Homo sapiens: one gene and its partners. The protein of the gene in region 3 purifies or fractionates together with the protein of the main gene of each other region. This does not show direct contact. Each region holds a gene or a part of one and is shown on either strand. Other genes may lie near its edges. The genes, in order: TRAPPC10, TRAPPC6B and RUFY4.

What was found.
Region 1: the proteins of RUFY4 (region 3) and TRAPPC10 purify together in Homo sapiens (affinity purification with mass spectrometry; one large-scale study listed by BioGRID and IntAct). This does not show direct contact.
Region 2: the proteins of RUFY4 (region 3) and TRAPPC6B purify together in Homo sapiens (affinity purification with mass spectrometry; one large-scale study listed by BioGRID and IntAct). This does not show direct contact.

The regions. Positions count from the first base shown.
Region 1 is NC_000021.9:44,099,217-44,102,870, forward strand, and holds part of TRAPPC10 (trafficking protein particle complex subunit 10), read left to right. Parts: exon of another isoform or gene 1-850; intron 851-3,561; coding exon 3,562-3,654. UniProt on the Homo sapiens protein: Specific subunit of the TRAPP (transport protein particle) II complex, a highly conserved vesicle tethering complex that functions in late Golgi trafficking as a membrane tether.
Region 2 is NC_000014.9:39,163,745-39,167,398, reverse strand, and holds part of TRAPPC6B (trafficking protein particle complex subunit 6B), read left to right. Parts: intron 1-3,654. UniProt on the Homo sapiens protein: Component of a transport protein particle (TRAPP) complex that may function in specific stages of inter-organelle traffic.
Region 3 is NC_000002.12:218,088,543-218,091,112, forward strand, and holds the end of RUFY4 (RUN and FYVE domain-containing protein 4), read left to right. Parts: intron 1-709; coding exon 710-820; coding exon of another isoform or gene 821-824; exon of another isoform or gene 825-943; coding exon of another isoform or gene 944-947; exon of another isoform or gene 948-986; coding exon of another isoform or gene 987-1,020; exon of another isoform or gene 1,021-1,144; coding exon of another isoform or gene 1,145-1,295; exon of another isoform or gene 1,296-1,409; coding exon 1,410-1,512; 3' UTR 1,513-2,042; downstream 2,043-2,570. UniProt on the Homo sapiens protein: ARL8 effector that promotes the coupling of endolysosomes to dynein-dynactin for retrograde transport along microtubules. Acts by binding both GTP-bound ARL8 and dynein-dynactin.

The DNA of each region.
Region 1 (3,654 bases), on a different chromosome or scaffold from region 3:
GACTGTTGACACACGCAGTGCTGTGGTTGGATCTCAAGGGCATTATACTAAGAGAAAAACGCCAGTCCTATAAGGAGGTGTACTGTGTGATTCCATTTCTAAATGACATCCTCAAAATGCCAGCCTCAGAAGGAGAGCGGGTCAGTGTTCCACGGAGCAGTGGGAGGCAGCAGGAGGCCGTCCTCTGTGGTAATGGAGAGTTCTGGGCCAGGGCCGCTGTGGTTGTTACACGAATCTACACATGTGACAAATGCCATAGAATTAGACCCAAAGAATGCCTGCGAAAGCTGCTGAAATCCAGTGGGGTCTGCAGCCTGGTTCACTCTGTAGTGAAATCCAGTGGGGTCTGCAGCCTGGTTCTATCTGTATTGAAATCCAGTGGGGTCTGCAGCCTGGTCCACTCTGTAGTGAAATCCAGTGTGGTCTGCAGCCTGGTTCTATCTGTATTGAAATCCAGTGGGGTCTGCAGCCTGGTCCACTCTGTAGTGAAATCCAGTGGGGTCTGCAGCCTGGTTCTAGCTGTATTGAAATCCAGTGGGGTCTGCAGCCTGGTCCACTCTGTAGTGAAATCCAGTGGGGTCTGCAGCCTGGTTCTATCTGTATTGAAATCCAGTGGGGTCTGCAGCCTGGTTCACTCTGTAGTGAAATCCAGTGGGGTCTGCAGCCTGGGTCACTGTATGGTACCAGTGTCAGCTTCCTGTGTTACACGAGATGGCACAGTTGGGTGAAGCTGGTGATGAAGGTATGTGACCCCTCTACTACTTTTACAACTTCTTGTGAGTCTATAAACATTTCACAATTAAAAAAAAGTCTACTCAGGAGCTGAATTTAATAAAATGAGCACTTTTGACTGCTTTGTGAAGCGTGGCATTTTTTTTTTTGTTTTTTTGCTGTGAGTTCATGGTAGTAAAGAACATGAGTGACATGACTGCGCAGTCTGGCCCGAGTTCATGCCATTGTGGTTGCCCCAGCAGCGCGAGGTCAGCAGCGTAGAAAGGCAGCAGTGTGAAAGCTATGAGCTTGCGGGTGCCCTGAGAGCCACACTCTGAGAACTGTCACTCCTTTGCCTTCCTCCTGACACTCCTAGGGCCTCTGCATGTCCTGTAGTAGCTCCTGTCCTCAAAGGTCCCCCATCCCCAACTACAGGATGTCCACCTCCCTGAGCCCTTCTCTGCTGCTCGTGGCCTTCTGGTCACTCACTCCCCCTGGGCGGTTGCTCGGTATCCTCATGATGGGAAGCTGTGACCTCTTTACCAGGTCTACTGCTACTGGATGGCAAGGATCCTGTCTTGCTTACTTTCATATCTCCAGGGCTAGTCCCAGTGAATGATCACTTAAGTGTTTGAATTGCATTGAATTACATGATGGTTGTGTTTTAATAATTAATGTTAATAATAACACCTGCCATATATTAAGACACTACCATGTCCCAGGAGTGGTACTAAGTGCTTTACATACAAGGGGTCTTCAAAAAAATCATGGAAGATACGTTATGAAAAAACTATGCATGGATTTCAACACTTTTTGCACCAAAATAAGCTCCTACTCACTGAGCAGGATCTAGTTTGAGGCACTAAGAAGGATAAGACATCAGTTTTAAAAGAGCCCCTATCAGAGCAACATGAATTCTGCTAAAATTAAATCAAGAACCAACATTGGCCGGGTGCAGTGGCTCACGCCTGTAATCCCAGCACTTTGGGGGGCTGAGGCAGGCGGATCACCTGAGGTCAGGAGTTCAAGATCAGCCTGGCTAATATGGCGAAACCCCATCTCTACTAAGAATACAAAAATTAGCTGGGCGTGGTGGCAGGCGCCTATAAGCCCAGCTACTTGGGAGGCTGAGGCAGGAGAATTGCCTGAACCCAGGAGGCGGAGGTTGCAGTGAGCCAAAATTGCGCCACTGCACTCCAGCCTGGGCAACGAGCAAAACTCCGCCTCAACAACAACAACAACAACAAAACAACCAACATCAAATTTATGGTGAAGCTTGGGTGGAAGAATGGTGAAATCATTGATGCTTTATGAAAAGTTTATGAAATTCTTTGGACAGTGCCCCAAAGAATTAGTAGTTTGCAAATGGATATCTTGTTTTAAGAAGGGACGAGATGATGCTGAAGATTAAGGCCATAGCAAGCAGACCATCCACATCCATTTTCAAGGAAAAAATTCACCTTGTTCATGCCCTAATTGGAGGGAACTGACAACAGCAGAAATGACAGCCAACACCGCAGACATCTGAACTGGTTCAGCTTATGCAATTACGCCTGAAGGGTGAGCAAGCGTTCCACTCAGTGGGTGCCAAAACCCTAGTACCCAGGTCCGTGGCCGACCAGAGCAGAGCTTCCCATGGAAACTTCAAACACACGGGATCAAGATCCTGAAGCATTTACTCAAAGAACCATAACAGGAGATGCAGTGTGGCCTTCCCAGTACCATCCTGAAGACAAAGCAGACACGGCAATGGCTACCAAGAGGTGGGGTGGCCCCACCAAAGCAGAAGCAGACTGGTCAAGAGCAGAGGCCACAGCAACAGGTTTTTGGGATACTCAAGGCATTTTGCTTGTTGACTTTCTGGAGAGTCAAAGGACAGCAGCGTCTGTGTATTATGAGATTGTTTTGAGGAAGATAGCAAGAGCTTTGGTAGAAAAACCCCTGGGGAAGCTTCACCAGAGAGTCCTCCTCCACCACGACAAAGCTCCTGCTCATTCCTCTAACAAGCCCAACTTCGTGAGGGTTTCTATGGGAAATCATGAGGCATCCACCTTGTGGACCTGATTCGGCTCCTTCTGACTGATTTTGGTTTCCTGATCTTAAGAAGTCTTTAAAAGGCACCCATTTTTATTCAGCTAATAATGTAGAGAAAGACTGCGTTGACATGGCTAAATTCTCAGGCCTCCCAGTTCTTCAGGGATGGACTAAATGGCATCGTAAGCAATGGCATCATTGCTTACAAACATGTCTTGACCTTGGTGGGGCTTATGTTGAGAAATAAAGCTTATATTTTCTGTTTTCATCTTTGGATTCCATTTTTGCATGAACTTTTTGTAGTTCCCTCATACGTATTCTCTTTCCATCCTTAAAAAGCAGCTCTGTGAGGCTGGTGGTGGTCTCAGCACTATACAGCGGTCATTGAGCCTGGAGGCCTTGGGGTGCTCTTCTGAGTGGCAGAGTTGGCTTCAGACCCAGTGGTCTTGGATACTGCCACTTACCAGACAGAACCCATTAACTGCCAAAGTCACCATACTGTGGAAGATGACACAAAAATTTGAAAACAAAATTAAATCATTTATTAACCTCACAGGAAAAATGCAGTTTTCTGTACACGTCCAGCATAATTCATTCTAATCCAGAACTAATTGAAATTGGACTCAATGAAATAGGGGTTGCCACCGTGAAAGTGCATGGCTTTATCTTCAGGCGCAGCTACAAGGCACTGGGCTCTGTGTCCGCAGTGTTTTGTCAGACAGCGTTGGGTGAGAGGATTGGGTAACGACGGCCGTGACTCTCGCCTGAGTACTGGAAGGCCCGTCCTGGATGACACATCGCTTCCTCTCGTTTCAGTTGTCGACAACAGTAGCAACTGGGCAGTGTGTGGGAAAAGCTGCGGTGTCATCTCCATGCCAGTGGCTGCTCGGGCCACTCACAGGGTCCACA
Region 2 (3,654 bases), on a different chromosome or scaffold from region 3:
AAGTTTTTTTAAATGAAATAAAGTTTTATAAATTTTCAGTATAGCAAAATAAACTTCCATAAGACTTGAGGTGAGATAAAAGAAAGAAACAGTGTTCTAACCCTCCAAATCAAGGTTTTTCAAACTATGCTTAAAGAGGAATTCTCTTAAAATGGACTAATTGGGCATTTCTCAATTTATGGTGAATGGATTTTGAAAGGCTAATGGATAAAATGTTCTCAAGTTGAATTTTTCTTAAAAATTTGGTGCCTACTCAAAAGTGCATGAACAAGTAGCAAAATTAAGTAGTAGGGCTTAATTCAAAAGCTCATGTGATCATAGGATTTGAAAGTGTCTGCATATAAGCATATTGTAACTGCCCAGTGGGTTCTTCTTCCCCACTGCCCAGGTAGAGCTGATCTATCAAGACAGGAGAATTGCAATAAGGAGTTTATGTAGAGCTGCTAAATGGGAGAGCAGAGTTTTATTATTGCTCAAATCAGCCTCCCCAAACATGCAGAGTCTAGGGTTTATCAAGGATAGTTTGGTAGGCTGGGGGCTGGGGAATGGGTGCTCCTGGTTGGTTGGGGATGCAGTTACAGAGGTGGGGGCCAGAGGACCAGTTGGAGTCATCCGAAATGCAAAAGTCTGAAAAGACATCTCAAAAGGCCTTTTTTAGGTTCTACAATAGTGATATTATTTACAGGAGTAATTGGGGAAGTTACAAATCTGTGACTTCCAGAATAATGTCTGATTATCATTTAACTACCTACATTTTAGCAGAATTCAGACCCCTCTCATAAGCCTAACCTTATAGTCTTTCATTAGTTTTGCAAAGGTGATTTAGTTTCGGGAAGGGCTATTATCATTCTTGCTTTAAGCTTACACTATAAACTAAATTTCTCCCAAAGTTAGCTTGGGCTGCATCCAGAAATGACCAAGGGCAGCTTGGAGGTTAAAGGCAAGATGGAGTTGATTAGGTGAGATCTCTTTTACAGTCATGATTTTCTTACTGTTACAATCTTTGCAAAGGTGGTTTCAATAGTTCCTGCTAATAAATATGTTCCTAGGTGATTCTACAGAGAGCAGATTATTCCAAAAAGAGCATCATGATTTACAGACACTTATTCTAGCTGAACTTGTTTTTTTGTTTTTTTTTTTTTTAAGAGACAAGTCTCTGGGTTAGTGTGGTGGCTCACACCTGTAAATCCCAGCACTTTGGAAGGCTGAGGTGGGAGAATTACTTGAGCCCAGGAGTTGGAGACCAACCTGGGCAACATAGTGAAACAGTGTCTCTATTTAAATAAAAAAAAAAAGAGGCTGGACACGGTGGCTCAGGCCTGTAATCCTAGCACTTTGGGAGGCCAAGGCAGGCAGGTCACAAGGACAGGAGTTCCAGGCCAGCCTGGCCAACATGGTGAAACTCCGTCTCTACTAAAAATACAAAAAATAGCTGGGTGTGGTGGTGCACGCATGTAGTCCCAGCTACTCGGGAGGCTGAGGCAGAAGAATCACTTGAACCCAGGAGGCGGAGGTTGCATTGAGCCGAGATTGTGTCACTGCACTCCAACCTGGGTGACAGAGCAAGACTCAGTCTCAAAAAAAAACAGAGAGAGAGAGAGAGAGACAATGTCTTGCTCTGTCATGCAGGCTGAAATGCAGTGTTGGGACTTTGGCTCACTGCAGCCTTGACCTCCTGGGCTTAAGTGATCCTCCCACATCAGCCTCTCGAATAGCTAGGGCTATGGGCATGCTACCATGTCCAGCTAATTAAAAAAATTTTTTTTTGTAGAAACAGAGTCTTGCTATGTTGCTCAGGCTGGTCTCAGACTCCTAGTCTCAAGTGACCCTCCTGCCTCAGCCTCCTACGGTGCTGGGATTATAGGCATGAGCACTGCGCCTGGCCTCATCCTAAGCATGTTTGAGAAGTGTGGAGAATAGCAGAAAAACTGAAGATAGTGATACGTACAGTAATAGATGTATGTACAGAATTTTACGACAGCATAGGGCCTAAGGAAGTTTCAGGGAAGCCATCTGGGAGAATGTAATACTTGAGCAGAATTTAAAGAATGTGAATGCCAGGCGCGGTGGCTCACGCTTGTAACCCAGCACTTTGGGAGGCCGAGGCGGGCGGATCACAAGGTCAGGAGATCGAGACCGTCCTGGCTAACATGGTGAAACCCCATCTCTACTAAAAATACAAAAAATTAGCCGGGCGTGGTGGCGGTCGCCTGTAGTCCCAGCTACTCAGGAGGCTGAGGCAGGAGAATGGCGTGAACCTGGGAGGCAGAGCTTGCAGTGAGCCGAGATCACGCCACTACACTCCAGCCTGGGCAACTGAGCGAGACTCCGTCTCAAAAAAAAAAAAAAAAGAATGTGAAGTCTAGGGAATAGCACATAAAAAGGCAGGGAGACAGAAGAGAACATGGCACTCTGGAGTTGCTGCAGAAATTTCAGAGTGGTAAAAGGGAAGGATGTTTGTGAATTTGGTTAACTAGCCAGGAGTCTTTAAGGAAAGGACATACCATGATGCCATGCTAAGGAGTTTGGACTTTATTTTTTGTTTGTTTGTTGGTTTGTTTTGAGACAGGATCTCACTCTGTTGCCCGGTCTAGAGTGCAGTGGCTAGATATTGGCTCACTGAAACCTCTGCCTCCTGCACTCAAGCCATCCTCCTACCTCAGCCTCCCAAGTAGCTGGGACTATAGGTGCATGCCACCATGTTCACCTAATTTTTGTAATTTTTTTAAAGATGAGGTTTCACTATGTTGCCCAGGCTGCCCTCGAACTCCTAAGCTCAAGCAATCCTTGGCCTCCCAATGTACTGGGATTTACAGGCATGAGTCACTACATCAGGCCTGGACTTTATTTTGAAGAAAGGGGAGCAGGTGCTGAAATTCCAGTAGAGAATAACATGATTTTTTTTTTAGACAGAGTTTCACTGTTATTGCCCAGGCTGGAATGCAATGGGGTGACCTTGGCTCACTGCAACCTCCGCCTCCTGGGTTCAAGCAATTCTCCTGCCTCAGCCTCCCGAGTAGCTGGGATTACAGGCATGCGCCACCATGCCCAGCTAATGTTTTATGTTTTTAGTAGAGATGGGGTTTTTCCGTGTCGGTAAAGCTGGTCTCGAACTCCTGACCTCAGGTAATCCGCCTGCCTCGGCCTCCCAAAATGCTAGGAGGCGTGAGCCATCATGCCCGGCCGAGAATAACATGATTTTTTTTAGAAATTTACTTTAGTAGAAGTTACACTACCAGAAATATAGAAGATGACACAAAGTAGGAAAAAATGAGACAAGACCAGTTGGAAAGCTATAGCTAAAAACCAGGAGAGAAATGATAAGGCTTTACTTAAGAAGTAAGGGTAGAGAGAGACGATGAATTTTGAAAAGCTTGTAAAAGATAGGCTCCACCGGACTACAGTGTATGGGGGGTTGGGAGCACAGGGGTGAAGAAAATGGAAGTTTTCTGGTTGGAGTAACTAGGTGAATGGTGGTGCCATTAATGAAGTTAGGAAATTTTGGAGGCAGAGCAGGCTGAAGACATTAATAAAATGAATATCATTTGAATATGCATACTTCGAAGGTCCTGTGGGACCACTAGATGTCTATGCCCAATAAAGTCTGTACTAGAAACGCAGATTTAATAGTCACAGCACCATAAGCAGAGTGCA
Region 3 (2,570 bases):
GTACTAAGTGCCAGATAAGAGACAGTAGGCAAGATGTGCTGTAAGTGTCTGGAGCAAGAAACCCCAGGGGCCTCTGTGATCAGGGAACACTCCTTTGTGCTTAAATAATGGGTCCTTAAATCATGGGTCAAGGTTATTTTGGGCAAAGAGGAGGCCAGGTGTCAGTTGCATTCTGATCTCTTGCATGTGTCTCTCACTGTCTCTTCATTTCTCTCCGTCTTTCTCTGGCCCCTATGTCTCTTTCTCTATCTCTCCATCTGTCTCCATATCTGTGTCTTCTCCTCTGTCTCCATTTTCTCTGTCTCTGTGTCTCTTTCTCTGTGTGTGTCTCTCTCCCTCTATATATCTCTCAACTTCTCTATGTCACTCTCTGTCTCTCTCCAATCCTCTCTCTCTCTCTCTCCCTCTTTCCCCTTCTCTCCACCCCTCTCTCTCTCTCTGAGTAACCATCTTTCTCTGTCCATCTTTGTATCCCTCCCCATTGCTGTGTCTCTATCTGCGTCTCTGCTCTTGTTTCTGTCCCTGTCTCTGAATCTCTTTTTATTTCCGTATGTGTCCATGTGATTCCCTCCATCACCCTCTCTGTCTCTCTCTTCCTCTCTGTGTGATTCCGTCTGTTCCTCTCTGTCTCTCTGTCTGGGTCTTTTCCCATTTCTATCTTTTGATCTCTGTCTCTGTCTGTGTCTCTCCACCTTCATCCCCCCATCAGAGAGAAGGACCGCCTGTGGCAGAGGCTCCAGCATCTCTCTTCCATGGCTCCCGAGTGCTGTGTGGCCTGTAGCAAGATCTTTGGCCGATTTTCTCGGCGGTATCCATGCAGGTAAAGGGAAGGGCACAGAATCCTCCCTCTGGGACAGCCCAGTTTCCACCAGCTGACAGCCCCCACCCACCCCAGGGAAGGGAGGGACACAGGAACTGGGTGTTTATAAAAGGCCACTTACAGCTGACTACTCATTCTACCACATCTGGCTTCCAACACTAAGCAGAGCCATAAAGGAGAAGAGCAGAAGGATCAGATAAGGAATGGGGTCCGGGGAGTGGGATTGGGTCCCCCTCCAAGAGCCGATTGAGAAATGGGCCTCTCATCTGGAAGGGAGCATCTGTACAGCGTAAGCTGCTCCCCCTCCTTCCTCTGTGAGCACAGTGCTAGGACCAGCCTTGGGAGAGAGGAAAGTGAGCCACCAGGAGAAGCTGCCATGTGGAGGTGGAGGCTCTGGAGGGGTCGGGCATCAGGACACCCTTCAGGAGAGGGGAGACCTCCTGAGACAAACCAAGGGCATTCCACTGGGAGATGAGAAACAGATGTCTCAGGTGGACCTGAAGATGCTGGAACTCCATGACCTCAGCGCCCACTTGGGGAAGTGCCAGCTGCAGAGGCCGCCCCAGGCTTTCCTGCCTCTGCCTTCCAGGCTCTGTGGAGGCCTGCTCTGCCATGCTTGCTCCATGGATTACAAGAAGAGAGACCGCTGCTGCCCACCCTGCGCCCAGGGAAGAGAAGCCCAGGTCACCTGACCAAGACCAAGACCAGCCCATGACTGGCCTCCCACCTGCCTGCCCATCCCACTCAATCCACTCCCTGCCCGTAGCTCTTCCCAGCCCTCTTGTTTGTCCAGTCCTCATTCTAGACACTGAAGATCTAAGGCACCAGCACTTCTGTGGGCAGAGTAGGGTGTGGGGAGTGGTTCCAGCCCTGCAACTACCACAACGAGCCAGGTGACTTTGGCGAAGCTCTCAGTGCTCAGGGCTTCTTCTCTAATGTTAAGAGTTGGGCCCCATCCTCTCTAAAGTCCCTCTGGGCTCAGCAAATCCATGACTGTGGATAAGACCCCAGCAGCCCTGACATTTCTCCTCCACACTCCCCACTCACCCAGCAGCGGTGCCCACCTTTCCTGATTCACGAGAAGTGAAGCCTGCACTATCTTGGACTCTCCAGCAGCTTCCTGTCTGGAGTCAGCTTCAGGGATCTGTGTTTGTGTTGCTGTGTTTCTTTTTATGTTTATTGAAGTACTACTGACATATGATAAACATCACAGAGTGTACAATTTGATGAGTTTTGATTTTAACAAACACCAATGAAACCGTCTTCATAAACATATCTATCCACCCCAAAGTTTCCTTGTGCCCCTTTGTGGTCTCCCTCCCTTCCCTTCCCTCCATACCTAGGCAAACACTGATCTGCTTTCAGTCACCACAGGCTAATGTGCATTTTCTAGAATTTTATGTAAGTGAAATCATACAGTATGCCCTCTTTATTGCCTGCCTTCTTCTGCTGAACTTAATGATGTTGAGATTCGTGTCTGTTGCTACATATATCAAGAACATATTTTATTGTCGAGTGGTATTCCACCGCATGGATATGCCACAGTTTGTCTCTACATTCACCTGTGGATGGACATCTGAGTTGTTTCCAACCTGGGGCTATTACAAATAAGATTCACATGAGTATCTGCTGACATACACTTGTTTCTCTTAGGTTTCTCTTGTGTAGACATATACTTGTTTCTCTTAGGTAAATTCCTAGGAATGACATGGGTGAGTCATTATGTTTAACTTTTTTTTTTGAGACGGAG